Linked DNA regions of Homo sapiens. The protein of the gene in region 3 purifies or fractionates together with the protein of the main gene of each other region. This does not show direct contact. Each region holds a gene or a part of one and is shown on either strand. Other genes may lie near its edges. The genes, in order: LONP2, ACOX1, PEX5 and TYSND1.

Evidence for each region.
Region 1: the proteins of PEX5 (region 3) and LONP2 purify together in Homo sapiens (affinity purification with mass spectrometry, with the first as the bait; 2 studies listed by BioGRID). This does not show direct contact.
Region 2: the proteins of PEX5 (region 3) and ACOX1 purify together in Homo sapiens (affinity purification with mass spectrometry; 3 studies listed by BioGRID, with this or other methods). This does not show direct contact.
Region 4: the proteins of PEX5 (region 3) and TYSND1 purify together in Homo sapiens (affinity purification with mass spectrometry, with the first as the bait; 2 studies listed by BioGRID). This does not show direct contact.

Annotation. Positions count from the first base shown.
Region 1 is NC_000016.10:48,247,299-48,254,322, forward strand, and holds part of LONP2 (lon protease homolog 2, peroxisomal), read left to right. Parts: intron 1-15; exon of another isoform or gene 16-241; intron 242-4,832; coding exon 4,833-5,067; intron 5,068-7,024. UniProt on the Homo sapiens protein: ATP-dependent serine protease that mediates the selective degradation of misfolded and unassembled polypeptides in the peroxisomal matrix.
Region 2 is NC_000017.11:75,976,146-75,983,538, forward strand, and holds the start of ACOX1 (peroxisomal acyl-coenzyme A oxidase 1), read right to left. Parts: upstream 3,022-7,393; 5' UTR 2,929-3,021; coding exon 2,820-2,928; exon of another isoform or gene 2,646-2,819; intron 2,549-2,645; coding exon 2,389-2,548; intron 1-2,388. UniProt on the Homo sapiens protein: Involved in the initial and rate-limiting step of peroxisomal beta-oxidation of straight-chain saturated and unsaturated very-long-chain fatty acids.
Region 3 is NC_000012.12:7,192,668-7,199,691, reverse strand, and holds part of PEX5 (peroxisomal biogenesis factor 5), read right to left. Parts: intron 682-7,024; coding exon 579-681; intron 1-578.
Region 4 is NC_000010.11:70,143,701-70,151,421, reverse strand, and holds the start of TYSND1 (peroxisomal leader peptide-processing protease), read left to right. Parts: upstream 1-4,721; 5' UTR 4,722-4,835; coding exon 4,836-6,001; intron 6,002-6,693; exon of another isoform or gene 6,694-6,937; intron 6,938-7,449; coding exon 7,450-7,580; intron 7,581-7,721. UniProt on the Homo sapiens protein: Peroxisomal protease that mediates both the removal of the leader peptide from proteins containing a PTS2 target sequence and processes several PTS1-containing proteins.

The DNA.
Region 1 (7,024 bases), on a different chromosome or scaffold from region 3:
TCCTTCCCCAGTTACCTGCTTTTCTGTATGGTAGCCCAGAGGCCAGAAGAGGGGCTCTGTTCCTTTCTCTTGTTTCCTTTGCGCTATCCAGGTGACGCTGGCACAGCCTTCAAAGAGCAGCAGAAGTAATTTGCTCCCAGCGTTCTTTGCCACACAGAGTGGCAGGATTAGATGTTGACTTACCTCTGCCACTTCCTTGGTGGTTTTGAGTAGTACAGTCCCTTTCTGCACGTTAGTGTGCAGGCATGTTGCCTGCAGGAGCCTTTTTAAAGGAGGAGCTTTGGACTTGTCCTGCAGTATAGAACTTGGCTGGCATGCTGACCCAGGGCACCCTGCATTTTTCTGCTTAGTAGAACTGCATTTTTAGTGCTTCCTGAGTGACCCATTGTTTTCTTAGTGAAAAGGGGTCATAATTTAGTACTACCTGTACAATATCCTTTCAAGCATTTCAAGATGGTCATCCAGCTTTCTTCCAAATTTACACTTTTCAGGGTACATGGCTTCATTTCCTCATAGTGCCGACTTCTCAGTCTCCCTCACCAGGCTGGTGTCAAACTTGTGAGCTCAAGTGATCCTCCTGCCTCTGTCTCCCAAAGTGTTAGGATTACAGGCGTGAGCCACCATGCCTGGCCTATGTTTATAATTCTTGTAGGTAGAAGTGGTACCTATTGTCCATTGTAATGAGAAAAAAGTAAAATTTGTCTTAAAATATAATTAAGGAACTCAATTTATTAAATTTAAATTTATCCTTTAAATTTTAAATTTAAATTTATTTCTTAAATTTATTTCTATTACATTTTCTTGTAACCATGTACACCTAAGTTGTTCTACTTTAATTTTTTTGAGACAGGGTCTCACTCTGTCACCCATGCTGGTGCAGTGGTGCCATCTCAGCTCACTGCAACCTTTGCCTCCCAGGTTCAAGTGATCCTCTCACCTCAGCCTCCTGAGTGTCTGGGATTACAGGCATGTGCCACAATGCCTAGCTATTTTTTTTTTTTTTTTTTGGTGGAGACGGGGTTTTGCCATGTTGCGCAAACTGGTTTCGAACTCCTGAGCCCAAGTGATCCACTTGCCTCGGCCTCCCAAAGTGCTGGGATTATAGGTGTGAGCCACCATGCCATGTTCTACCTTTTTGAATCTCATTTACTCACTTGTAATAAGGAAATAATACTACCTTCTTCATGGGGTGAAGGGAGGTATAAAATGAAGTATACATATGAAAGCCTTTTGAAACTGCAAAGCATTCTAAACCTATATCCAAATGGGTAGTTTTAAATGTAGATTTTCACAAAAGGGGATTAAAGAGAGGAGTGGGGAGGCCCCATATTATTCCAACACGGGCTGAACTGAACTAACATCATTGCAGGAAGGTCTTGGAAGATTAAAGATTCCAAGAAAAATTAAGGGCTTTGAGTAAAAAAATTTTTTAAAAGTGGCTGGGCCTGGTGGCACGTGCCTGTACTCCCATCTACTCATGATGCTGAGGCGGAGGATTACTTGAGCCCAGGTGATCGAAGCTGCAGTGAGCTATAATCGTACCACTGCACTCCAGCCTGGGTGACAGAGCAAGATTCTGTCTATAGGAAAAAAAAAAAAAAAAAAAGCAAGTGCTGGGCATATAGGCTGGAATTAGATATTTACATAATATCCTCATCTTGGAAAACTTTTTCCAGTAGTGCTGCTTTTAGATTTTCCCACTACTGCAGTTGATGGTTCTTAAATATGTTTGGAACTCTTATATTATTTAGGTCAGTTTCCAAATTACACAAATTGTAACCATTGTAGTCAGACCTCACTTGAATGAAAACAATATTTTACAAACTCTGAGGGTAGATTCGAGTTAGGATTTGGATTAAAACATTATCTTAAAACCTCTGAGGGTAGATTCGAGTTAGGAGTTTCAAAACTTCTTTGAACAATATCATAATTAGGATGTAGATTTACAGAGCTACTAGCTAAAGGGAAGGACACCAGTCATTGGGATGTATAAGTTTGGATCTGTTGCAAAATTAAAATGCTGCCTTTTGAGCATGCCTAATAATGCACATACAATAGAAGAGCCAGAATTTTTAGAAAAATGACTGACTTGATATACAACCTTTTGTATATCATAGAAGGAAAATATTAGTTGAGTATTTTGTTTATTTACCTGTTTGTATATATAAAACCTGGGGCCCAATATACAATAGATTCTTTTTCACTATGCTTTTCACCCACAGTGTCTCACCAGGTACTCTGTTTCTAGCCATCTATAATTTCATAGATGTTTTTCTTTAAAAGGGATGTATTCTAGGCTGGGCGAGGTGGGTCTTGCCTGTAATCCTAGCACTTTGGGAGGCCAAGATGGGAGGATTGCTTGAGGCCAGTAGTTGGAGATCAGCCTGGTCAACATCATGAGATCCCATCTCTGTTAAAAAAAGAAAAAAAAATTTTTTTAAAGGGATAATTTCTAGTCAACTATAAGTGATTTTAAGTAAAAAGCAATTAAGGCATGTATACATCTGTACCTTTTGTAGGCATAGTATAAATTCAGCTTAATCTCTTCAGTTTGGAACATCTTCCTTTCACAGCAAAAATATTGTATTTGCTTTATAAGAAAACCCCTTTTGGCCAGGTGTGGTGGCTCACGCCCGTAATCCTAGCACTTTGGGAGGCTGAGGTGGGTGGATTACCTTAGGTCAGGAGTTCGAGACCAGCCTGGCCAACATAGTGAAACCCTGTCTCTACTAAAAATACAAAAATTAGCTGGGCGTGGTGGTGTGTGCCTGTAATCCCAGCTAGTTGGGAGGCTGAGGCACGAGAATCCCTTGAACCCAGGAGGCAGAGTGCAATAAGCCGAGATCACGCCATTGTACGTCAGGCTGGGCGACAGGGTGAGACTCCCTCTAAAAAACAAACAAAAAAACCACAGTGGCTCACACCTGTAATCCCAGCACTTTGGGAGGCCAAGGTGGGCGAATCATGAGGTCAAGAGATCGAGATCATCCTGGCCAACATGGTGAAACCTCATCTCTACAAAAAATACAAAAAATTAGCTGGGCGTGGTGGTGTGTGCCTGTAGTCCCAGCTACTTGGGAGGCTGAGGCAGGAGAATCACTTGAATCTGGGAGACGGAGGTTGCAGTGAGCCAAGATTAGGCTACTGCGCTCCAGCCTGGTGACAAAGTGAGACTCCGTCTCAAAAAAAAAAAACAAAAAACAAAAAACAACTCTTTAGCATCACCTTTTAGCAATGACATAGCCCAAATAATTAAATTTGTCTCCTGATCGGAGATTTGGATTTGTCTCATCTCTCTTTCTGGTTCCTCCTTGGTTTCTACTTTGTAAACCCTTTAGGCCGGGGATCCAGTTTCTTGTCTGTGGATGTTTTATATACAAACAGGACTGTGAGCTCTTTCAGCATTGTACAAACAGTGATGAATATCATCTGCAATTAATTATGTTTAAGTTATTCTCTAATCAGTTTAGAGGTGGCTCACTTCCTCAGGCAATCTGAGTGGGCTTTCAGGAAGTGGGAAATATTATCTACTATTGATTGAAGAAAAGCAGCCACAACACAAATAAGTCAAAATAATAGCTAATTGCTAAATAATTTCAAGTTTTTTATGTATGTGATTTTTTTCCCTCACCAATTTATCTTCTCAGTTGTTTGGCTTATTATTTAAATCAGTTTTTATTGTAAACATGGTAATGACTGAAAGGTAAGAAAAGGATAGACGTAGTTCAGAATAAACTGAGTGGCAGAAAGAAGCCAAAGGCTATGTGTAATCTACGGAATGAGTAATTTATAAGGAAGTAATCAAGAATTCACTGTGTATAGAAGTAAGCAAGTTCACTCACATAGTCACATACTGTATTACATGATTTATTATCTTTGAGATGGGCAGGTGTGGTGTTCTTCTATTACCGCTTTCCTAGGGTGTTGAGAGTTCTAGTCCTTCTATTTTCTTTTCTGGAATTACCACTTTTCCTATGGCTGAAGGGAGAAAATATTATTTATTTTGGGATCTGGAATTGTCTTCTCAATGTTGATTTTTGTATTTTATATAACTGACTTAGTTTGGATGAGGCTTCCTTTCTGTGAATTAAATTTATATGTGACTTGATCAGAGTTGTATTTGCTGATGAGGAGCTGAGACTTGAAGCCTTTTCACCTATTGTTAGGTAAAATGATTACCACTTAGAACTAGGTTGAGACCTTTTGAGATGTGGGTCTTTCTTTAGCTCTCCTCAGTCTATGGCAGTGTGTGGACTGTAATATTTAGCCCTCACACTTAGAAATTCAGTGTTAAGGGCATATATATAAGTTCCCAGTATGTGATGGCAGCTTGTGATAAGGTGGGTATGTGGAAGTTTCATAGACTGATTATGTAAGAAAACTGACTTGATGTTAGTAGCACAACTGGTGTTGGAACGGAGATTTCTTAGATTGGTTTATGCTATTTATATTTAAATGTATTTAAATTGATAATATTTATCCTGGTATAAGATTGCCTTATTCTTAGTTGACAATGTTAATTTAAGATATGTAATTCTCAGCTGCTTTTCTCTTACATTTTTACGCTTGAATAATCCAAGTGTTTACAAATTCCTACCTAATTTTTTAAAAGAGGTGCAGATTATAGTGAGATGGTCTGCTTTGCCATATAGCTGAGGGTAGTGGCAGAAGAGGCCACATACTGGATGCTAAGTTAAATAGAGAAAAAATTTATTTACACTTCAGATGTCTTTTGCTTAATGAATGTATCAGAAAAGCCAACACTTTCTGAAGTGAGTTTCTGTTCTACCGTATTGAATGTTTGTAATACCGATGTTTTGTGTGTTTTTCAGGATTGGCACAGCTGCACTGGCCGTTCAGGTTGTGGGCAGTAACTGGCCCAAGCCCCACTACACTCTGTTGATTACAGGCCTATGCCGTTTCCAGATTGTACAGGTCTTAAAAGAGAAGCCATATCCCATTGCTGAAGTGGAGCAGTTGGACCGACTTGAGGAGTTTCCCAACACCTGTAAAATGAGGGAGGAGCTAGGAGAACTATCAGAGCAGTTTTACAAATATGCAGTACAAGTAAGTTGCTTTTATTTTTTCTTAAAACCCATTTTTCTTTGGTTCTTTTGCTTTCCTAAGATATGGTGAATCTGTTGGATAGTGAAGTTTTAGGACAGTATACATTTAAATGAGTTAGTAACATTATATATTAATTCTGATTTACTCTTATCTGGGGTTGTACCTAAATCATTCCAGGACATATTGGCCTACCCTTTCTAAAGTTTTCCAAATGTTATTTCTACAGCTTTCCTTCTAACTTCTACTGTCTCTAAACTAGATAATTATTAAACCTAAATATTTAAAGCTAAAAAACGAAATACTGCACAGAAGCTGTCTGTCACTAAAATATCTAGGCACCATTTATATAAATTACAATATATTACTTCAAAAGTCAAGATCACATTGTCTAGCAGTAACTATGGTAGATCAAGCCTGTGGTGGGCTGATTTCAAGTATGGTTAAAACCTTGATTAACTAGAATGCTGGGAAGGAAGCACATTTTAGATATGCATTAAATATTTGACTCTTTAATTCTAGTTCTTTTTGGTTAACTCTAGATAGAACAGAAAGCTCCTATTCCCACCCCATTTTGTTTCAAACCTTAATGAAACATAAAATTATAAAGTATAGTCTTCTACTTTTCTATTAGTTTAATCCAGTGACTATAACTAGATCTATGAGGATCAGATAATGTTTAAAAGTCACAATTATAAATACTACTGATCATTGAAATATGTGTGGGGCAAGTGTTCATAGCCAGTGGTATTTGTATCTGATGTGGCATTTGAAGAGCCATACTTACAGTGTAATGAACAATAACAGAAAAATAGTAAATTTGAGGGCCAGGTGCGCTGGTGCACACCTGTAATCCCAGCACTTTGGGAGGCTGAGGTGGGTGGATTGCTTGAGCCCAGTAGTTCGAGATCAGCCTAGGCAGCATGGTGAGATCCCGTCTCTACAAAATGTACAAAAATTAGCCGAGTGTGATGGTGCGTGCCTGTAGTCCCAGCTACTGGGGAGGCTGAGGTGGGAGGATTACTTGAACCTAGTAGGTGGAAGTTGCAGTGAGCCAAGATTGCATCACTGCATTCCAGCCTGGGCAACAGAGCGAGACCCTGACTCAAAAAAAAAAAAAGAAAAATAGAAAATTTGAATCTGTAATTTCTATATGGGCTGAAAGAAAGCACTTTGAGGAAAGAAATTTCAGTTTGAAAACTGGAATAAGTGAATATACTGCTTAGGAATAAAGGAGATTGAGAGAAATAGAATTTCTTTTTCTTTTCAGCAGTGATGTTCCCTGGGTCTTTGTGCCTCTATTGGACATAGATAGCTTCATAGCCTCTTTTGCTTTGCTTTTACTTCTTTGTACTTTGAATCTAGAGGAACTTTTTAAACTTGTAAAGATTTTGCAGTGACATTAAAGGAATTTTTAGAAATAAATAGATCACCACACATCTTACTGTCATCATGCATCAAATTTAATTTTTGTTCGTCTTCTGGGCTCAGTTCATATTCAATTATATGTTTTGTTTTTGTATCCATGTCTGATGTTCATATTAAGTACTTTTGTTAATTTCATTGAGTTAATGTATACTAATTTTATAATTTCTCTTTTTAGACATTAAAGTTATTTCCAATTATTCTCTTTCATCCCCTTCTGCATCTACTTCTACTTCTGCATCTCTTCAATGAACTTCTTCAATAGCATCCTGTCTCCTAGTTCTTCTGTCTTGAACCTTTTCTCTTCACTGAGCCTTTCTAAAAGAAGTCTGGGGCATCCCATTCCCTTGAGTAAAAGACTTTAATGGCTATAGGATGGACACCAAATTTCTTAGTATAACATTAAGACCGTTTGCAACTTGTCTTGGGCCTATCTGTCTTGCGTCAACTCTAGTTATCACCTCACTGACACCCTAGTTCTAGCTCTACTGAATGTAAAACAGCTTCACATTGAGTTATTTTATGTCTCTATGAT
Region 2 (7,393 bases), on a different chromosome or scaffold from region 3:
TCTTACTTAAAAACTGATCTCCTTGTCATATCCTAAGGACATTGGAAGTGTGTCAAAGGGTGTGTTAAAGTTTGTACTTTAATACTTCACATGAAAAATGATACACAAAACAACTTCCCGGTGTCCATGAATCTTTAACCCGCATAAAAGACTTTGTTCTATTTCATTGTGACCTCACTCGAGTCTGGTTCACATTATCAACAGGTCACAGGTTATGAAATCATCTCTATCAGCTTTGAAATGCACTGCACCACCCATTCAAACACACACACACACACTCAACCCACTTTTTTCCTGACGTTTCAAGAAGGAATAAAATCTTACTAATTTTTTCAAATTTACAAACACAACACAGGTATCAGTAACATAATCTTCTAGGAGGAGTTACTCTATCTCAATATCCCCACAGCCATGAGTTACAAACTTCAAAAACAAAACAGACCATTTGGAAGTATGCTGATTTGAACTACCAAAAATAAATAAACAAAATTTTTTCGTTTAAAACTGAGTGGAGCTCTGAGGAAAGTCCAAAGTGCCAGAGTAAACCATTTCATCTTCACAAAAATAACCCAAGTCAAGCTGAAAATCGATACCAAAGGCACTAGAGGCAGTGACCATTATTACCATAAAGGCAGAACGTGCAACATGTTCTATTTAGCTTGGTTCTAGTCTATACACCACTCATACGATTTAGTCTTTACCGATGAAAATACTGGAGTTCCTTTAAAATGGAGAAACCTAAAAGAGAAAATGCCCAGGAATAAATGAGAAAAAAATGCTATAGGCCAAAATAATCTTGTACTAGGATCATGTAATAGTGTTTGTTTAGGTTAAGGCAAAAAAGTCTTTTTTTTTTTTTTTTTTTTTTTTGAGACAGAGTCTCTCTTTGTTGCCCAGTCTGGAGTGCAGTGGCGTGATCTCGGCTCAGTGCAGCCTTTGCCTCCCAGGTTCAAGGGATTCTCCTGCCTCAGCCTCCTGAATAGCTGGGACCCCAGAAGCGCACCACCAGGCCCGGCTAATTTTTGTATTTTTAGTAGAGAGAGTTTCACCATTTTGGCCAGGCTGGTCTCGAGCTCCTGGCCTCAAGTGATCCACCTGCCTTGGCTTCCCAAAGTGCTGAGATTACAGGCATGAGCCACTGTGCCCGGCCCGAAGTCCTTATTTTTATTTATTTTTACCGTTCCTTGTGGAGCAGGGTGGATCACGAGGTGAGGAGTTTGAGACCAGCCTGGCAACATGGCGAAACCCCATCTCTACTAAAAATACAAAAATTAGCCGGGTGTGGTGGCGGGCGCCTGTAATCCCAGCTACTCAGGAGGCTGAAGCAGGAGAATCGCTTGAATCCGGGAGGTGGAGGCTGGAGTGAGCCGAGATCGTGCCACTGCACTGCAGCCTGGGCGACAGAGCGAGACTCCGTCTCAAAAAACAAAAACAAAAACAAAAAACACAACAAAACACATGGTCTGAAAAAAGGATATACTCTCTTCCACACTAGAACCAAGGCAGGTTTTTATGACGTCTCTCTCATATGCACAAGACAACCATTCAAGCACTGTCATGGATTCAGAACTACTGGGTTCTTAGACTTTCTATTCATTCAGAGGCGTCACAGATCATTCTTCATCCAGGTCCACACTACCATATAATATAATCTGCTATTGCTCCAAAATATTTAAATGGTCGTGCAACTAAAAAAAAAAATGCTCCCAGATTCAGAATTTTAGCAGTCCTCCTTACAAAGAGCAAAATGATTCTGCATTTAAATCAGTCAAATTTGAGTTGCTTGGGCAGAACAATGCTTTTACAACATCCTTGAAACTGTACTCTTGAGAACAAAAACTCCTGCATTTCCATTTATTATCAGCATTCTACAAACACGTCATCCCACGAAAAGGCTTGGATACAAAAGTGATCACATTATTTTTCACACATATAACTTTATTTATTTATTTATTTATTTATTTTTTGAGATGGAGTCTCGCACTCTTGCCCAGGCTGGAGTGCAGTGGCGCGATCTCGGCTCACTGCAAGCTCCGCCTCCCTAGTTCACGCTATTCTCCTGCCTCAGCCTCCCGAGTAGCTGGAACTACAGGCGCCCGCCACCACGCCCGGCTAATTTTTGTATTTTCAGTAGAGATGGGGTTTCACCGTGTTAGCCAGAATGGTCTCGATCTCCTGACTTGGTGATCCGCCCGCCTCGGCCTCCCAAAGTGCTGGGATTACAGGCGTGAGCCACCGCGCCCGGCCACACATATAACTTTATAAAGTTGCATGAAAATATGCCAGTTTGCATCTTCAAACACCAAGCACGGTGATGAAAGGCCACCATAGACCGCAGCTGTAAAGTTTAGGCTTAACAACACTTGCTCTGTTCTAAGGCATACCTACTTTTTAAACCACATAATTTCATCAGGGTCAGCGATGCCAAACTCCCTCATCTTCTTCACCATGATGGCACTTTTCCTGACAGCCACCTCATAACGCTGGCTGCGAGTGAGGAAGTTCAAGTCCTCATGCTGGAAGTCTGGGTCGTTCAGGATCATGTTCTCTGAAAGGGGGTTAAAGGGCATTAAAAGGCAGACAGACACTCGGGCCTCCGTTCCACCCTCCCTGAATCACAATAGGCTTCAGAGTCGCGGACACACCTGGGGAATGGCGATATCCCCCCACCAGGGACACAGGCTGTTCCTCGAAGTGGGGGTCCCGGCTCCCCTAACGCTGGGCCAGAGGGCCTAGGCCCCACAGCGCCCCTGACTCCGCATCGAGGGAGTCTCCAGCTTTTCTCGGGAAAGGAGGGAGGTCTCGCCCGCCGCCCTCACCGATCTCTCGGCGGCGCCGGGTTTTCTCGGGGCTGCCGTCCAGGATGTGTGTAAGCAGCTCCGGGTTGAAGCTGGCGGAATCCCGCTCCCTGCGCAGGTCCGGGTTCATGGCGACGACCAGCTGGCAGCGAAGTAAGCACCGACCGAGGTGGCAGTGACAATCTAAATCCGCAGCTCCAGCGCCGGCCGGACCCTAGGAGGCAGCCTCAGGACGGCGCAAGTCCCCGCCTCCGCTCGCCCGGCCCGCCCCGGCCCGCCCCTTCTTTCTCCGTGGCCCTTTGGCGCGTGAGTGACAGCGGCCCAGACAGAGGGGGCGATGTCCGCGTCGTGGCTGGGGCCGGTCGCGGGGCAGACTAATCCCCTGCTCCTGGCCAGGGGAGGCTCCCGAGCGGATCCTCGGGAAAGGGGCTCCGAAGGTCAAGAAACTGCCCTGCTGGGCGTCCGGGGAGTGGGAAAATAAAGCACTTTTTGTATCCCGCCCCTCCCCCGTCACGTGACCACGCGAGGCGGAAAGAAGAAATCCGAGGACCGGCGACGCCTAGAACAGGTTGGCTGGGGCCTTGGGAAGGGGGCGGGACAACGAGGCTGAGGAGGGATTGCGCCTGCACTTGCCCCCCTCTTACCCCGCGGCCTCTGTCACGCTTCCGGGTCCGTGCCCCTAGGCCTCTCCGAAATGAGAGTGGTCGGGAGACTCTGGAGTCTGGGGCGGGAGATGGGGCTTTGCGGAATTGCTAGGGAGGGTCACTTGGGCTTTTGCCAAATCCACCCGGATTGGAGAAGAATGGGACGGGAACCAGTCTCTTTGGGGAGAGGCTCCAGTTACCTTTTGTTAAGATAATGGCGTCTTTACTGGCAGAGGCGTGGGTTCCGGGGCCCTGGGTGTGGGATTGTGAGCGCTGTTCAAGGGGTGGACGGGGACTTAGAATGAGACCAAGCGGGCGGTGCTGCTCTAAGCCTTCTGTCTGGGAAACCAGACATTTTCCCCCGCAACCTGGCAGTTACTAGAGGTCTTGGAATCCAGACTTCTTTGCTTTCGCCATCACCGTCATCAAAGTGGGAAATGCACACTTACTGTTAAAACCTAGTGTAGGGCCGGGCGCGGTGGCTCACGCCTGGAATCCCAGCACTTTGGGAGGACGAGGCGGGCGTATCACTTGAGCCCAGGAGTTCAAGACCAGCCTGGGCAACATGGCAAAACCCCATCCCTACAAAAAATACCAAAAAATTAGCTGGGTGTAGTGGCATGCGCCTGTAGTCCCAGCTACTCTGAAGGCTGAGATGGGATGGTGGCTTGAGCCCCGGAGGTGGAGGTTGCGGTGAGCCAAGATTGTGACATTGCACTCCATCCTGGGCAACATAGTGAGACCCTGTCTCTACAGAAAAAAAACAAAAAACAAAAACAGTTCTGCCCAGTGGGATTGTAGACAAGGGAGATTCAGGGATTTGTTGAATCATCTCTAGTCATTTTTTTTTTTTTTCTTGAGACGGAGTCTCGCTCTGTCGCCCAGGCTGCAGTGTGGTGGTATGATCTCAGCTCATTGCAACCTCCACCCCCTGGGTTCAAGCGATTCTCCTATCTCAGCCTCCCGAGTAGCTGGGATTATAGGGGCTCGCCACCACACCCAGCTAATTGTATTTTTAGTAGAGACAGGATTTTGCCATGTTGGCCAGGCTGGTCTCGAATTCCTGACCTGTTGATCCACCTGCCTCGGCCTCCCAAAGCGCCGGGATTACAGGCGTGAGCCGCTGCGCCTAGCCTGTCTGTAGTCTGTGTAATACTATGACTTTGGTTTTCTCAGAAGTAAAACTACGAGAGATGCATAACATTCATAATTTGAATAATAGAACTATAATACACACTCTTAACCCCTAGGACCTCAGGATCCTCATTTGTCTTATTAAGCTGCTGATCTCAGGCCCCTTCAACAGCAGAGAGGGTGTCTAGTTTATTCTCTGTACCTGGCACAGTGCCTGCCCCGCTAAAGGTGCTCAGGAAATCTTTGTGGAGTGAACAAATGGCTGCTTGACAGCTGACCTTCTAGTTCTAATATTCTAGGAAACCAATTGCTCTTAATGTAACAATGATAAGGGGTGTACTTAGCATTGAATAGAAAAGACTTAGATGAAGAGCTAAATTTGCTGAGTTTTTATTTTGAAATAATTTCAAATTTACACGAGAATTACAAGAATAGAACAAAGAACTTTTCTTCTGTGACTTTAACGCTTTTTTTTTTTCTTTTGAGATGATGTCTTCCTCTGTCACCCAGGCTGGAGTGCAGTTGCATGATTTCAGCTCACTGCAACCTCCGCCTCCTGGGTTCAAATGATTCTCATGCCTCAGCCTCCAGAGTAGCTGGGACTACAGGAATGTACTACCACACTTGGCTAATTTTTGTGTCTTTATTAGAGGCAGGGTTTCACTATGTTGACCAGGCTGGTCTCCAACTCCTGGCCTCATGTGATCCGCTCGCCTCAGCCTTCCAAAGTGCTGAGATTACAGGCGTGAGCCACTGCGCCTGGCTGGCTGACATTAACACTTTTGAAGTGTATAAGCCCATTGTTTTGTAGTGTTGGGTCTCAGAAAACAATACCCCAAAATGAAGGCCTCAGAAGCAACCCACAAAGCAAGTTGTTTTTTTTTTTTTTTTTACCTTCTGTCCTCCTCTCCCTCAGGTGCATTCTCCCCCGAGCCTAGCCAGAGAAGTTAGAATCCTCTTCCCCAAGGCAGGTCATAGAAAACAGAGTCATTTACCCCCAAAGCCAGCCATAAAACCCTAAATATAAGCTGGGTGCGGTGGCTCACGCCTATAATCCTGGCACTTTGGGAGGCCAAGGCAGGTGGATAGCGAGGTCAGGAGATCGAGACCATCCTGGCTAACACGGTGAAACCCCGTCTCTACTAAAAATACAAAAAAAGCCGAGCGAGGTGCCATGTGCCTGTAGTCCCGGCTACTCGGGAGTCTGAGGCAGGAGAATCGCTTGAACCGGGGAGGCAGAGGTTGCAGTGAGCCGAGATTGCACCACTGCATTCCAGCCTGGGCGACAGAGTGAGACTCTGTCTCAAAAAACAAACAAAAAAAACCCTAAATATATTACTCTTAACTTTCCCTCCTTCTTTTGGTGTAAAAACTGGCCAAAAAGAAATTATCTGACCTAGCTTGTTTGACTGTAGGCCATAAGACTCCATTCCAGAGAGGGTCCTCCCCCACACCCAGAAGGAAGGAATGCCTGTTCCAAGAGGCCAAGAAGAATCTAGACAGACAGGCCTTGCTGGGCCTCCCCACTCAGTCTATCAGCATTAGATCATACCTTTTATGTTCAATCATTTGCATAAAAATGTACAATTTCCCCTGTATCTTTGGGTCTTCCTTCTGAAGGCTCCCATATGTACATGTTACATAAATTTGTACACATTTTTGACTATTACTCTGCCTTTTGTAAGTTGATTTTTTGCAGCGAAACTTCAGAGGGCCCCTTGGCACCTACAGTAGAATGTCCCTTAATTCAGATTTGTCTGATATTTCTTCATGATTAGATTCAGATGATGCATTTTTGGCAGGAATACCACACAAGTGATTAATAGGAGAAAAGGCATACACATGTATTTGATCATAGTTTTGCTTTGTTTTGTTTTGTTTGAGACAAGGCCTTGCTCTGTCACCCAGACTAGAATGCAGTGGCGCAACCATAGTTCACTGCAGCCTCAAACTCTTAGGCTCAAGCATTGATCATAGTTTTATTTATTTATTTATTTATTATTTTTTCAGGCAGAGTCTCACTCTGTCGCCCAGGCTGGAGTGCAGTGGCATGATCTCGGCTCACTGCAGCCTCCGCCTCCCGGGTTCAAGCAATTCTGCTGCCTTAGCCTTCCCTGTAGCTGGGATTACAGGCACCCGCCATCATGCCTGGCTAATTTTTGTATTTTTAGTAGAGACGGGGTGTCACCACATTGGCCAGGCTAGTCTCGAACTCCTGACCTCAAGTGATCTGCCCGCCTTGGCTCAAAAAAAAAAAAAAGAAAGAAAAAAGGAAGAGGCCCGGTGAGGTGTCTCACGCCTGTAGTCCCAACACTCTGGGAGGCCGAGGTGGGTGGATCACCTGAGGTCAGAAGTTCATGACCAGCCTGGCCAACATGGTGAAACCCCGTCTCTACTAAAAATACAAAAATTAGCCGGGCATGGTGGCACACGCCTGTATTCCCAGCTACTCAGGAGGCTGAGGCAGGAAAATCGCTTGAACCCGGGAGGCAGTGGTTACAGTGAGCCGAGATCCCGCCACTGCACTCCAGCCTGGCAGACAGAGCGAGACTCCATCTCAAAAAAGAAAGAAAGAAAGAAAGAAAAATGTATAATCATTATACCAGCAAATTCCTCCCTCGGTGAGAATTGCATAGCAACCCCAGCATCCTCCCCACCTCTTTTTCCCCAGATCCACCAGAAAAACAGGAACATCTAGTGGGGACACTCCTTTAGTCCCCTCATGTTAGTGAGCACACACTCGTGTACACTAGCCCTTCATAATTGTTATCTCCCCCTGTTTTAGACAACCAGTGTTTTCATAGCCTATGCCACCTC
Region 3 (7,024 bases):
ATGACAATGGCGGTTTTGTGGAATAGAAAAGGGGGAAAGGTGGGGAAAAGATTGAGAAATCCGATGGTTGCTGTGTCTGTGTAGAAAGAAGTAGACATGGGAGACTTTTCATTTTGTTCTGTACTAAGAAAAATTCTTCTGCCTTGGGATCCTGTTGATCTATGACCTTACCCCCAACCCTGTGCTCTCTGAAACATGTGCTGTGTTCACTCAGGGTTAAATGGATTAAGGGCGGTGCAAGATGTGCTTTGTTAAACAGATGCTTGAAGGCAGCATGCTCTTTAAGAGTCATCACCACTCCCTAATCTCAAGTACCCAGGGACACAAACACTGCGGAAGGCCGCAGGGTCCTCTGCCTAGGAAAACCAGAGACCTTTGTTCACTTGCTTATGTGCTGACCTTCCCTCCACTATTGTCCTATGACCCTGCCAAATCCCCCTCTGCAAGAAACACCCAAGAATGATAAAAAAAAAAAAAAAAAAGAATAAAGTAAGTTGGTTCGAGAACGTGGATGGAGGAGGCTGGGAAAACTGTCCATACTCCTTTCACGGGATTCGGAAAGAGGTATCTGAACTCACCAGCGATCGGTGGCTGTTCCCTCAGGTTCTCCCAGCCACAGCTTCTCCTCTGATTGCTCCAAATATTCCTCAGCCCAGCGGGCAGGGGACACAGACAAGGGGTCTGCAAGGAGCAGAGAAGTGGGGAAATCACACAGGTTCATTCAGTGTGGGATCAAGGAAAGGGAAAGAGATGCCCATATTCAACTGACCCTCTTAGCCACACCAAAGCAGACAAAACTCTGCTGACTCCCTCAGAAACCCCTGGTCAAAAGAATATAGTACTAAATTTTCAACATCCTCAATATCCAACCCATTCTCAAGGAGCCTGGGGCAGAAATTTACTGAGAGTTGGGAACGGGAGATCAAATAAGGAATCTCAGGAAAGGATTAAGAACCAAACTCTTTTTCTTGAAGTGCAAGATATTTCAATAAGAAATAGGAAGCGGAAGGGCTTTCACTTTCCTCAGAAGTACAGCAGGGAGCCAGTAAGGAGTGAAGGGAGCACAGAAGGGCTCCTGTTCCTTAACCAAGGCACTGGTCTGTTCTCCCTCTACCCAGAGTTCACACAATCCCGGCCAAAGGAGCCTTATTTCATTGTAATTTGCCTACCAAGAGAATCAGAGAAGTGGAATGCTAGGCTAGAATTAAAGACACATAGGTCTGCTCTTCCCTATGGATGTTTGGTGGGTTTTTTCATTTTTTAATTGAAATGTAATATACAAATATGAAACCATATAATGTCTACCAAACTTAAGTGTACAGCTAAATTAACTTCCACATTTGATACACTCACATAACCACCACCCGGATCAAGATACAGAACGTTTACAGTTCCCTCACAGGCTCCCTCAGTCTCCCAGCCCCCAGAAGTAAACACTATTCTGACTTTTCTCACTTTTGATTATCTTTGAGTAGCTATGTTTTTTCAGTCTAATTTTAGAAACTGTCTCAGAAGCTCTAGTGACAAAGGGGACTGCTGCAACATCAGAATTAACCTATCAAGGCAACAAACTCAATGAGGGTGCTGAACTGTTTTTCATCCTCCAGGACTTTGCCCTTTACTATCCTGTGGCCAGAAAAAAAAAACAAGGAGACTGACTGCGGGCACTAAAGAACACAAGGAAACAAAGAGAAGGCACAAGCCTACGGTGTTCTTTCCTTCTGCCCTGTGTCCAGAACTAATCTTACTAGTTAGTCTGCCACCACCTTCCCCTGCTATTCCCCACTCCTGGCCCATGACAAGGACAGTTCCCAAGGGGGAACTCCACTCTCTTGTTGAGAACCTACTAACTCCAATTTGCATTAAAGAGGGACATTTGGGCAGGGGTGTGAAAATATTAGCTGATACTAGCAGTCTTTGTCCCCAGTTTCAAGATCTGACCACCCTTGCTTTTACTACCCCTTCGGTATTAAAGTACAAAAACTTCTACTCCATTTTAACTGAAACTTTGCCTGAATAATGTCAACAAAGTAGTCTCAAAATCTGAGCATGAAATGTCAAAATGTGAAAAACAAAGATCAAGACTCTCAGAATACACCTAATTATAAATAATAAGTAATTACTACTTATTATATTATATATAACATATATAATTACATTATATATAACATATAATTATTACATTATATATAACATATATAATTATTATATTATATATAACATATATAATTATTACATTATATATAACATAATTACATTGTATATGACATATAATTACATTGTATATGACATATATATAATTATTACATTGTATATGACATATATAATTATTACATTGTATATGACATATATAATTATTACATTGTATATGACATATGATTACATTATATATGACATATATAATTATTACATTATATATGACATATATAATTATTACATATGACATATAATTATTACATATGACATATATAATTACATTATATATGACATATATAATTACATTATATATGACATATATAATTACATTATATATGACATATATAATTATTACATTATATATGACATATATTATTACATTATATGACATATATAATTACATTATATGTGACATATATAATTACATTATATGTGACATATATAATTACATTATATGTGACATATATAATTACATTATATGTGACATATATAATTATTACATTATATGTGACATATATAATTATTACATTATATGTGACATATAATTATTACATTATATGTGACATATAATTATTACATTATATGTGACATATATAATTATTACATTATATGTGACATATATAATTATTACATTATATGTGACATATATAATTATTACATTATATGTGACATATATAATTATTACATTATGTGACATATATAATTATTACATTATATGTGACATATATAATTATTACATTATATGTGACATATATAATTATTACATTATATGTGACATATATAATTATTACATTATATGTGACATATATAATTATTACATTATATGTGACATATATAATTATTACATTATATGTGACATATATAATTATTACATTATATGTGACATATATAATTATTACATTATGTGACATATATAATTATTACATTATATGTGACATATATAATTATTACATTATATGTGACATATATAATTATTACATTATATGTGACATATATAATTATTACATTATATATGATGTAATTATTACATTATATATGACACATAATTATTACATTATATATGGCACATATAATTATTACATTATATATGACACATATATGTATGACACATAATTATTACATTATATATGTCATATATAATTAAATTATATATGACATATATAAATTATGACATATATAATTAAATTATATATGACATATAATTAAATTATATATGACATATATAAATTATGACATATATAATTAAATATGACATATAATTAAATTATATATGACATATATAATTATTACATAACATATATTACATTATATATAATATATAATGTAATAAATACATTATATGTAACATATGTAATAAGAAATACATTATATATAACATAATGTAATAAGAAATACGTTATAACATAAGAAATACATTATATATACATTATATATAATGTAAAATGTATATATAATATATATAATATATAATGTATAATGTAATAAGAAATATGGTTGGCAATTTTTTTTGACCATAGATCCATCTGTTAATTTCAAGGACTCTCAAAAATTAAATACAGATTCTGCTCACTAGCTCTTACAGGAAGCATTTCTCTTCCATTTGCCCCAATTAGACTGTTGCCTCAAGTGTGGAGACGGAAAGGAGATGCTTAATACTCAAAGAGACTTTAAGATCTCCTAGTTCCTTAGTTCCATTCTTAGTTGAAATTCTTAGCTCCATTCTGTTGAAAAATAACTACTACCTCCTCAACTCTCCAAACACTTCTAACTCTCAACTAGAGTATTTTGCAAAAGCATATTCTGGCCATAAGTGCTCCTCAAATTCACAGAAAACATTTCAAATTCCTATGAAATGGTCCTCTCAAGGACAAAAAAAAAAAAACAGAAAAAACACAAAGCACCTTTGAATTTTTACAACAGACATGAGGACTTAACAATAGATATGAGGCAGTTTAAGAAAAAAAATCCCAGAGCTGAGAAAAACTATCCTCAAATACCTATAATTTGGTAGTTGGCCAGATTAAATCGCCACAAGACCCAGAATTTCTTGGCATTGGGAACCTACTCCAACAAGAGTCAAATAACCGAAAGAATCAAAAGAGTAACACACTGCCTTCACAATCTTTGAGAAATTCCTACAGAAAATCAGATCCATGTGGATACATCTGAGATCAAGGCAACTAAGGTCTACAGAGGGGATGCACTGCCTGAGGTCATACAGATTAGTAGAGTGAGAATAACCTAGACACCAAATACCCCACTCAAAATGTGCACCTCATATAATTTCTCGTTGTTTACTCATTCCTTCTAGGCACATCTTCCCCAAGCTCAAAAGTCAAAAACTCAGAACTTGCTACTCTTACTCATGAAAGTTTCTGTGTCTGCTAAATAGCAGCACTGTGGAGAAGAATACAAGTTGTAGGGTCAGTCTACCCACATTTAAATCCTAACTCCATCACTTATTCACTGTGCATCTTCAGACTAGTTACTCAACCTTCTTAAGTTTCCATGTCCTTATCTTTAAAGCAGAGATAACAGTAGGGGCTGCGGTGAAAACCAATGAATACAGTAACAAATGTTAGTTATTATCATTAGTCTGCTCATGGCAAACCTATAACAAAAGCAGAAAACATCACAATGAGACTGTTATTCCAAAGCCTCTCCTCCAACATCCAGAAAAGATCTGTTGCCAATTATCTTCTGCTACTGCTATCCATGGCTTTTCCCATGAAAGTGCAGGTTTATCTCTCACGATTATCATATGAACCTCACATACCATGTCAACCGAAGCTGTCTAAATTTAAGAACCCTGAAGATGTGTTTTATCTCTAGATCTGAGCAAACACAAGATGGAGAATTATTTGACCCAGAAGATTTAAGACGGGGGGATTCCATTACAAAATAAGGTAAGCTAAAAAAATGAACTTCATGTGGTGAGAGAATAGTTCTGTATCTTGATCATGATGGTGCTTACACAAATCTACACATTTAATAAAATTGCAAAAAACACACACACACAAATAAGGGCATGTAAAACTGGTGAAACCTAATAAACTCTGAGGATTGAAACAAGGGCAACTTCTTGATTTTTGATCTCTGCATAACTGCTATGTAAAATGTTACCACTGGAGGAGACTGGGTGAAGGGTATACAGAACCTTCCTATACATTTTTTTTTTCAACTTCCAGTGAAACTAAGTACTTCCAAATAAAAAATTTAAATTTAAATAATTGAGCTGCAACATTCTTTTTAAACTTGATTTTGACTCTTAACAGTGGAGATTTTAAAATAAGAACTTAAAAAGTATAACCTTCTTTCATCTCAAAATCTACTTATCTATAAAGCCATAGCTAACCCATACAATTGTATCAACCACAAATGCTGTAATTAAAAATGAAGGATAATAAAAAAAAGTCAGTTACGACAAAATGAACTCCTTTCCTTTAGCTTTTTCTCCCAGATCTCAATTCATTCATTCAATACCAGAGGCCTACTACATGCAAAGCAATATACTGCTGCAATAAGACATTTTTATGAAGGCAGACTTCAAACAGCTCAACTCCCATTCTAAGGTTTGCATGTCTCTGCCTCTGTGAAACAGGCACGATTCCAAAAGAATCTACAAAATACTAGAAGAGCTCTACTAAGAGCATTTAACTGGTGAGACAGATAAAACATGTTTTTCTAAAGTTCTTTTTCATTTCAAGTTAAGGAAGATTTCAATGGCTGCATGCAATTCAGGTAATTACAGCAAAAATTTCATCCATCTCAACGCTCATAGTAGCAATGATTTTTCTGAATTATCAAAAATGACTAATGCCCACATTACAACAGAAGCCTCTCTGTGATAAGAGATAGCACTTAAGTCTAAGGTTTATGTGAAAAACTGAGTTTCTGTCTTGGAGAGGGTCTTTGCTATGGTTCAGATTTTAACTTGCGGCAATTTCACAAAGAATCTCAACGTGAGGGCGCGTGCGGTGGCTCACGCTTGTAATCCCAGCACTTTGGGAGGCTGTGGTGGATTACTTAAGGTCAGGAGTTCAAGACCAGCCTGGCCAACATGGTGAAACCCTGTCTCTACTAAAAATACCAAAATTAGCCGGGCATGGTGGCACACGCCTGTAGTCCCAGCTACTCAGGAGGCTGAAACGGGAGAATCCCTTGAAGCCAGGAGGCAGAGGTTGCAGTGCGTACAGATTGCACCGCTGCACTCCACCCTGGGTGAGAGCAAGACCCTGTCTCAAAAAAAAAAAAAAAAAAAGAATCTCAAGAGCCACACAGACATGAGTTTGAATATCATCTCTATTATTCAATGATTTTGCACAAAGTATTTAACTTTTCCAAATCTCAGTCTCCTCATCTATAAAATGGGGGTGGGATATCCACCTTGTGTTACTGTTACTGTGAAGTTCTAATGAGCTTAAGAAGATAAAGTGATTAGCACTCTTAAAGCCAAGAGCACCTACTGTTCTACCTTAACTCCAACTTATGGGTGGGAAAGAGACACGTGATAAAAGAGACCCACAGATCTTATTAAAGGTGAGTTTTAGTTTTTAGATTTGGGATTTTTCTCTTGTGTGCGGAGAAGCCCATCCTAAACATGGGCCTCCTTCACACACATTTGTCCCTGATCAGATAGGCTTCGGGTAAGAAGAATCAATCCTAAAGGATGCGAGGAGCAATGGATGCTCTCAAGGAAAATTAGACTTGAGACCTTGAAATCTGTAGCAAACGAAGAAAGAACATAAATTAAAATGGTGGGGGTAGAAACCAATTCAGTCCCTTTAATCATCTCAGAAAAATTCAGGAACCATGATGATGTGACTCC
Region 4 (7,721 bases), on a different chromosome or scaffold from region 3:
CAGTGGGCTTTAAAATTTCCATTTGCAGAATTTGGTCTCTCAGGCTGTTTGGGAGCTCTTTTTTTTACATTTTTTCTCCTTTGACACCTATTTTATTGGTGTTTAAAGTAAAGGTTAACATCTGTAGCTTTTCCAGGTTTTTTTTTTTTTTTTTTTTTTTTTGGTATGAAATTGTCTTTCTCCATTGCAGAAATAAGCTAGGGAAACACTAACCCAAAAACTTTCTGTAGAGCTGTTCCTTTGGAGGCAGCATCACTTATTGGCAGTAAAGACTCAGTATAAAAGCACCGGCATCCCTACTTGGGTGATGGGGATTAATTTTATAGCATTCCATTTTCCTAGTGCCACATGTGAAATTGGATTTTGATGATCTTAATCTATATTCTACCCTTATAATAAAAGATCAAAAGATATATCTCCTATGAACAGATTGGAGATAGGAGATGAAAAGTTGGGAGGATGTCTTTATTCTAATGTGAGGGTAGGGAAAATGTGGATAACATTACTGGGGTGAGGGAGGCATTGTTCTTTAGTTGGAGTTCTCATTCTTATTCTCCAGTACTGACTTGTGGGGAAAGCATACTTTTTCACTGCCAGGTACTGAATGCAGAGGCTCAGTGAAGTATATATGTGGGAAGTGCATGCATTTCGTTTATTAGCAAACATAGCTGGATTAAGACAAAGTTGTTGGTTTGGAAAGGGGTTAAAGCCTTAAGTGAACAAATCTAGCTAACAGTGAATGAACTAGGTAATATAACTTGCATATTTTTAATTTCCTTTGGTTAAAGGTCCCCCATACTTCTCTGTTCGGAGACATGAGAAGTATGATTACTTCAGTGTTAGTTTTCTTAATTTTTTTTTTCCCCTATTTGTCCCTTGTCACTTTGTTGCAAGCTAGAAATCTGTGGGTTATACATAGGGCAGCTCTTTGTGAAAGTGGTTTATTCCACTGGAGAAAGGGGATTGAAAATCAGTTAGAACCAATGTATTTCTTGCCCCACGGAACACTATTCCTATAAGATAGCTGAAAGAAGCTGCTGTGAGGAGCTCAGCTCCAAACACAGGATCAGCACCTTGTATAGGAATTCCCATGAATTATGACTTCTCATTCTGTTTTATCAGAGTGCATATATGTCCTACTTCAGGAAAAGTAAAACAGTCATTTACGAAAGAAAGTCAATCTGTATCCTAAGCATTTTAATAAAAAGTTAAAACAAATACGCTATTTCCTTTTTTTTTTTTCATTGGTTTGTTCTGAGCTCTGAGTTTGAACAATGCCGTTTATTTGGGGAGGCAACCAAAAGTTCCCTGCATAGAGGAAGAGACATTTAGGGTGCGTGTGAGATACTTGAATTTTGCCACCAGGAGGGGGAAAAAGGCTGGGGTACTAGAAGTAATAGATTTAGTACTACTTGAGAGATTTGGAACATGCTGTGGACCCAGGGTTGTTGGTCATCTCTGCAACAGGATGGGGATGGCAGATGTTTGAGCAAAATCTATATTAACATGCTAGCAAGGACTAGTTCTAGTTTAGCTGTGTTTCACTCATTTTACACAGAATTAGAATTGGCCAGGTGTGGTGGCTCACGCTGTAATCCTAGCACTTTGGGAGGCTGAGGTGGGTGGATTGTCTGAGCTCAGGAGTTTGAGACCAGCCTGGGGAACAGGGTGAAACCCCATCACTACTAAAATACAAAAAAATTAGCTGGGCATTGTGGTACATGGAGTAGCTCCCAGCTACTCTGGAGGCTGAGGCGGAGAATCGCTTGAACTAGGAGGTGGAGATTGAAGTGAGCCGAGATCATGCCACTGTACTCCTGCCTGGGTGACAGAGCAAGACTCTCTCTAGCTCAAAAAAAAAAAAAAAAAAAAAATCAATTAAATGCTACATTTGGCAAAATGAGAAAGAAAGAATTTCCTTTACTAGGCTTGTAGGAAGACTGCTTTTACAAAAACCCAAATGAGATCATAAAACTAAAGTACTGGGACAAACAGTGGGAAACAGTGCAATGGGTTCTTTTCAACCAAGTATTAAAGTATTGGAGATATTGCCGGGCGCGGTGGCTCACGTCTGTAATCCTAGCGCTTTGGGAGGCCAAGGCGGGCGGGTCATGAGGTCAGGAGTTCAAGGCCAGCCTGACCAACATGGCAGAGCTCCGTCTCTACTAAAAATACAAAAATTAGCCAGGCACGGTGGGACGCACCTTTAATCCCAGCTACTCAGGAGGCTGAAGCAGGAGAATCGCTTGAATCGGGGAAGCGGAGGTTGCAGTGAGCCGAGATCGCGCCACTGCACTCCAGCCTGGGTGACTCCCATCTCAAAAAAAATAAAAAGTACTGGAGGTGTCCTGTTGTCCTTGTTACTGTGAAAGGATGCCATGGGTTGTATGGGCAAATGAGTTGTTTTGTTTGAGGCAGAGTGGAAAATAAGATTAGGCTCAGTCCATGAGCCTAGCACTCAACAGATCTTACTTTGGCGTTCTGGCTGTGACTTGGGACTTCTTTTTACCATGGTCTGCTGTAAACACAGAAAAACCCAATGCCTAACAGTTCATGCTGGAGTCTTGAGCGTTGAGGGAGAATCACTGGACTCGAGAGAGAAAGTTTGTTTGTTTGTTTGTTTGTTTGTTTTTTGAGTTGGTCTCACTCTGTCGCCCAGGCTGGAGTGCAGTGGTATGAACATAGGTCACTGCAGCCTTGACCTCCTGGGCTTAAGTGATCCTCCCATCTCAGCCTCCCAAGTAGCTTGGGACCACAGGGTTGCACCACCGTGCTCAGCTAGTTTTCAAAATTTTTGTAGAGTTAAGGTCTCATCATGTTGCCCAGGCTGGTCTCAAACTCCTGGGCTCAGGAAATTCTCCTACCTCAGCCTCCCAACGTGCTGGGATTCCAAGTGTGAGCCCCTGTGCTCCACCAAGAGAAAAACTCTTTGATTGCTAGGAAGTTGGGATAAAGAAATTGTGCTGTGATCAAGCCACCTTCTGTGTCATAGAACCAAAAGAAGACCGCCTGCTATGGCAAGATGGCCTAATTTTATTCCTGCCTCATACTATCATGGATAATCGTTTTCCTTTCTCTAGCAGGTTTGTGTCACTGGGAGTACTGGGAGCATTATCCTGTGTTGTGCTGGGGTTATACCAAGCAGTGTTAACTTTATTTAAAGAATTCAGGCAGAAAGATTAGAGAATTTAAGTAGCAATTGTATATGGTAAGCAATACAGTAACCTTAATAAAAATTAATGATGGCCGGGTACGGTGGCTCACGCCTGTAATCCCAGCACTTTGGGAGGCCGAGGCGGGCGGATCACAAGGTCAGGAGATCGAGACCATCCTGGCTAACACGGTGAAACCCCGTCTCTACTAAAAATACAAAAAATTAGCTGGGCGTGGTGGCAGGCGCCTGTAGTCCCAGCGACTGGGGAGGCTGAGGCAGGAGAATAGCGTGAACCCAGGAGGCGGAGTTTGCAGTGAGCGGAGATCGCACCATTGCACTCCAGCCTGGGCGACAGAGCGAGACTCCGTCTCAAAAAAATAAATAAATAAATAAAAAATAATGTGTATTTTATCAATTCAGTGATAAAGCAGACCTTTGTAAACTGTCTAGCTTGTGGTGACTGATTGAGGGTATCATGAAGCTCCGCGCCCCCCCACTCCCCGACATACTCGTTCATCCTCCTCTGTCCTAAAGCGTACTTCTTTGGAAAAGTAGAGCAGTTTATGTTAGTGTACACTAGAGATGGTAAACTATGCCTTGTGGGTCAAATCGGGCCTGCTGCCTGTGTTTGTATGGCCTGTGAGCAAAGAAAGGTTTTTACATATTTAAATGGTTGGAAAAAATATTTAAAGAATGCTATTTTTGGACACAAAAAATTGTATGAAATTAAAATTTCAATGTCTGTATCTTTTTATTGGGACACAGCCACCGCCATTCCTTTAGCTTTTGTATGCAACAGCTGCAGAGTTGACTATTTGAGACAAGTTGTATGGTCCCCCCAAACTGGAACTGTTTCCATTCTGGCCTTCTACAGAAAGTATTTGGACCCTGGCCTAGATAAATCCTGGCTGGTGGTTATGTTATGTGAAATGTGCACACTGTAAAATATAGGCCTGTATGATTAAAATTTTTGATTTCAGCTACTGTTCATAGTCGATTTAAAGGGCAATTTAATTTACAGCAAATCCAGTTTCTCGGAGATTTGTGTTGGGGCTTTGGCAGCAAAAAAAAATCCTAGGAGTAATCTTGAGAGTTCCATGCCCCCTAGTGGATTGCTATAGGGTTTACTTTTAAATTTTCAAAACACTGAATTGGCCAAGGATTTCCTTGGTCCATATTATCCCAAGGGTCAGAGGCTGAAGGTCGCCTAGACCTGGGCAGATGCTCACAGGTACTGTCGTGGCCTGGGCAAATCTAGGCACGTCAGCGCTCATTTCTATTCCCTTTCCCACATTCCAGCAAACGAGACTAGGCTTGAAGGGACCCACCCTCCTCTCCTCTGATTCCTCGTGACGCCGCACTCCTCTTACTCTCCCCGGGGCTCATCCGGGGGAATGGGGCAGATTATGTCCCACCGGTTGGACAAACTAACGAGGGCGGGGAAAGGAAAAAAAAAATCAGAATAGGAAGCCAATCAGAGCTCGGTACAAGCCCAGCCAATCGGGTCGGGTCAATTGGGGCTTAGCCAATCGGGCTCGATGAGGAAGACGTGAGTCAGAGCTTGCGCCTCTCGCTTCCAGCTGTGGGTGGCGCTAGGCAGCTTCAGCCGGACCGGGTAGGGGTCCTCGCTCGCTAGCTTGCTGTTTCTCGGAGAAGCTCCCGAGTGTCCGGCCTAGAGGCCATGAGAAGGCAGTGGGGGTCTGCCATGAGGGCGGCCGAGCAGGCGGGCTGCATGGTGAGCGCCTCCCGGGCCGGACAGCCCGAGGCGGGCCCGTGGAGCTGCAGCGGGGTAATCCTGAGCCGTAGCCCGGGCCTGGTGCTTTGCCACGGGGGCATCTTCGTCCCCTTCCTGCGAGCTGGCAGCGAAGTCCTGACCGCGGCCGGCGCCGTCTTCCTGCCTGGCGACAGTTGCAGGGACGACCTGCGCCTGCACGTGCAGTGGGCCCCAACGGCCGCGGGTCCCGGGGGCGGCGCGGAGCGGGGCCGCCCAGGGCTGTGCACGCCCCAGTGCGCGAGCCTCGAGCCCGGCCCACCTGCCCCGTCCCGCGGGCGTCCCCTGCAGCCCCGGCTTCCTGCTGAGCTGCTGCTGCTGCTGAGCTGCCCGGCCTTCTGGGCCCACTTCGCGCGCCTCTTCGGGGACGAGGCAGCGGAACAGTGGCGCTTCTCGAGCGCGGCGCGGGATGACGAAGTGTCGGAGGACGAGGAGGCGGATCAACTGAGAGCGCTGGGCTGGTTTGCGCTGCTGGGCGTGCGGCTAGGCCAGGAGGAGGTGGAGGAGGAGCGCGGGCCAGCCATGGCGGTGTCGCCTCTCGGGGCCGTGCCCAAGGGTGCGCCATTGCTGGTCTGCGGCTCCCCTTTCGGCGCCTTCTGCCCCGACATCTTTCTCAACACGCTGAGCTGCGGGGTGCTCAGCAACGTGGCCGGCCCACTGCTGCTTACCGACGCACGCTGCCTGCCCGGCACCGAGGGCGGCGGCGTGTTCACCGCGCGGCCCGCGGGGGCGCTGGTGGCGCTGGTGGTGGCGCCGCTCTGTTGGAAGGCCGGCGAATGGGTGGGCTTCACGCTGCTCTGCGCCGCCGCCCCCCTTTTCCGCGCCGCCCGCGACGCGCTTCACCGCCTGCCGCACAGCACCGCTGCCCTGGCCGCCCTTCTGCCGCCAGAGGTGGGCGTCCCGTGGGGTCTGCCCCTCCGAGACTCCGGGCCCCTGTGGGCAGCCGCGGCAGTGTTGGTGGAGTGCGGCACCGTATGGGGCTCCGGAGTGGCTGTGGCACCCCGCCTTGTAGTGACCTGTCGGCACGTGTCCCCTCGGGAAGCAGCCAGGGTCCTGGTGCGCTCCACCACCCCCAAGTAAGCCCGCAGGGCTGACGCCACTTCATCCCTTTCCAGGTCTCAGATCTGGGTCCAGCCCTAATACTCTTGAGTATTGTGCAGGCCTTTCTTGTGTCACGCGGATGCTTTGGGCGTGTAGTGGGTAGAGACCTGGAACCCTCCCCTCATCCTTTATACCCAGAACCCCTGTGGGGAGAATCTGGGGCAAGGTGTCAAGCTCGAAGCAGCTCTGGATTTGGGTACTGTGGGACACCCTGAATCCGGAACAGGGCATCTTTGAGCTCCCCTCAAAGGCTGAGTTTCTTCTGGGCAGCTTCACTGTCTGATAGCCCTGCACGCCATACCCCTCGGTTCTCTGGCCCTTTGAACAGAGATTCCCTAACCCTGCTGCTTCTCCTCTGAAAGTGATAAGGTCCCAGAGGCCCAGGATGGTGCTCTCCTGGGGTAAGGAGATGGGTATGTTAATTTTATCCATCTTTTAGTGCTTAGCCAGAGCTTCCCGTCTGAGTGAAACGTGAGTTTCTACGTAATCAGAAGGTAGGGGGGTGGCCCACGCAGCTGTACATGGTTCAGCCCAGCCTTGCAGCCCAGGCTTTTCCAAATCTCTTCCTGAATCCCCAAGCTTAGCCAGGTGTGGGTAACACTGCCCAGTTTTGCCATAGGTGTCCCCACTGTGGCCTATAGGACAGCCATGACTTTATAGGGAAGACTGATGATGAAGGTTTGCCTATGGTGTGTGGCCCCCACCAGATTCCTTCCACTCCCCCCACATGCCCCTTGCTCCTAAGGAGACTGCCAGGTCTGTTGGAAGCTACCCCTGCAGAGTGTGTAGTAGGACGCCCCTGTCTGATCCCGGGCAAGTCACTTAACCTGTCTAAGCTGCCTCCCCGGGAGTTGACGCTGAATGTCGTGGAACGGAGCCTGTCACGTCGTGTGCTACAGAAGTGTTAGCGTGTACGTAAATAGGGACCCAGAGGAGTGAAACCATGTCATATCTGACCCACCAACTGACGGGATTGTTGTGGGTATCAACGAGGCAGTGAAGGAAAGTGTTGTGTTTGCCTTGGCTCCTCCCACTTTGTTTGGTGTTGGGAATGTTACTGAGCGTCTCTGGGCCTCAGTTATACCACCTAAAATGGAGATAATGCCAGTGCCTAGTTTATAGGGTCGTGAAGACTAAATAAAGTGATGTCCACAAAACACTAACACCAAACCTGGCCCACAGTGCTCACTAAGTGTCAGGTTGATTATTCAGGTACAGGAAGCTTTAGAGAAGTAGCACAGTTTGTCAACCACCTTTGGAGATACCACAGAATGGTTACATGACTTGCCCAGAGTTGCCTGCTGGTCGATTCAGGGCTGATACCCAGATCTTCTGACTTTTACTGTCACTCTCAGCTCCTTGATTTCTCCCAAGTACTGAGGAGTCAGAAAGCTAGCCTGTCATTTGTTTCCCTTGCTCCCAGGAGTGTGGCCATCTGGGGCCGTGTGGTATTTGCCACTCAGGAGACATGTCCCTATGACATAGCAGTGGTGAGCCTGGAGGAGGACCTGGATGATGTCCCCATCCCTGTGCCCGCTGAGCACTTCCATGAAGGTAAAGGACGAAGGGCGCAGCCTGAAGGAGGGCCCCTCTGAGCTAGGGTGGGCCTCAGGAAGGAGAATCAGTGTTGGGCATTCTCATGAAGTCAGGGTAGCATTGGTCAAGGTCCTTGGAGGCCTGCCTCCCTTTTTGTGC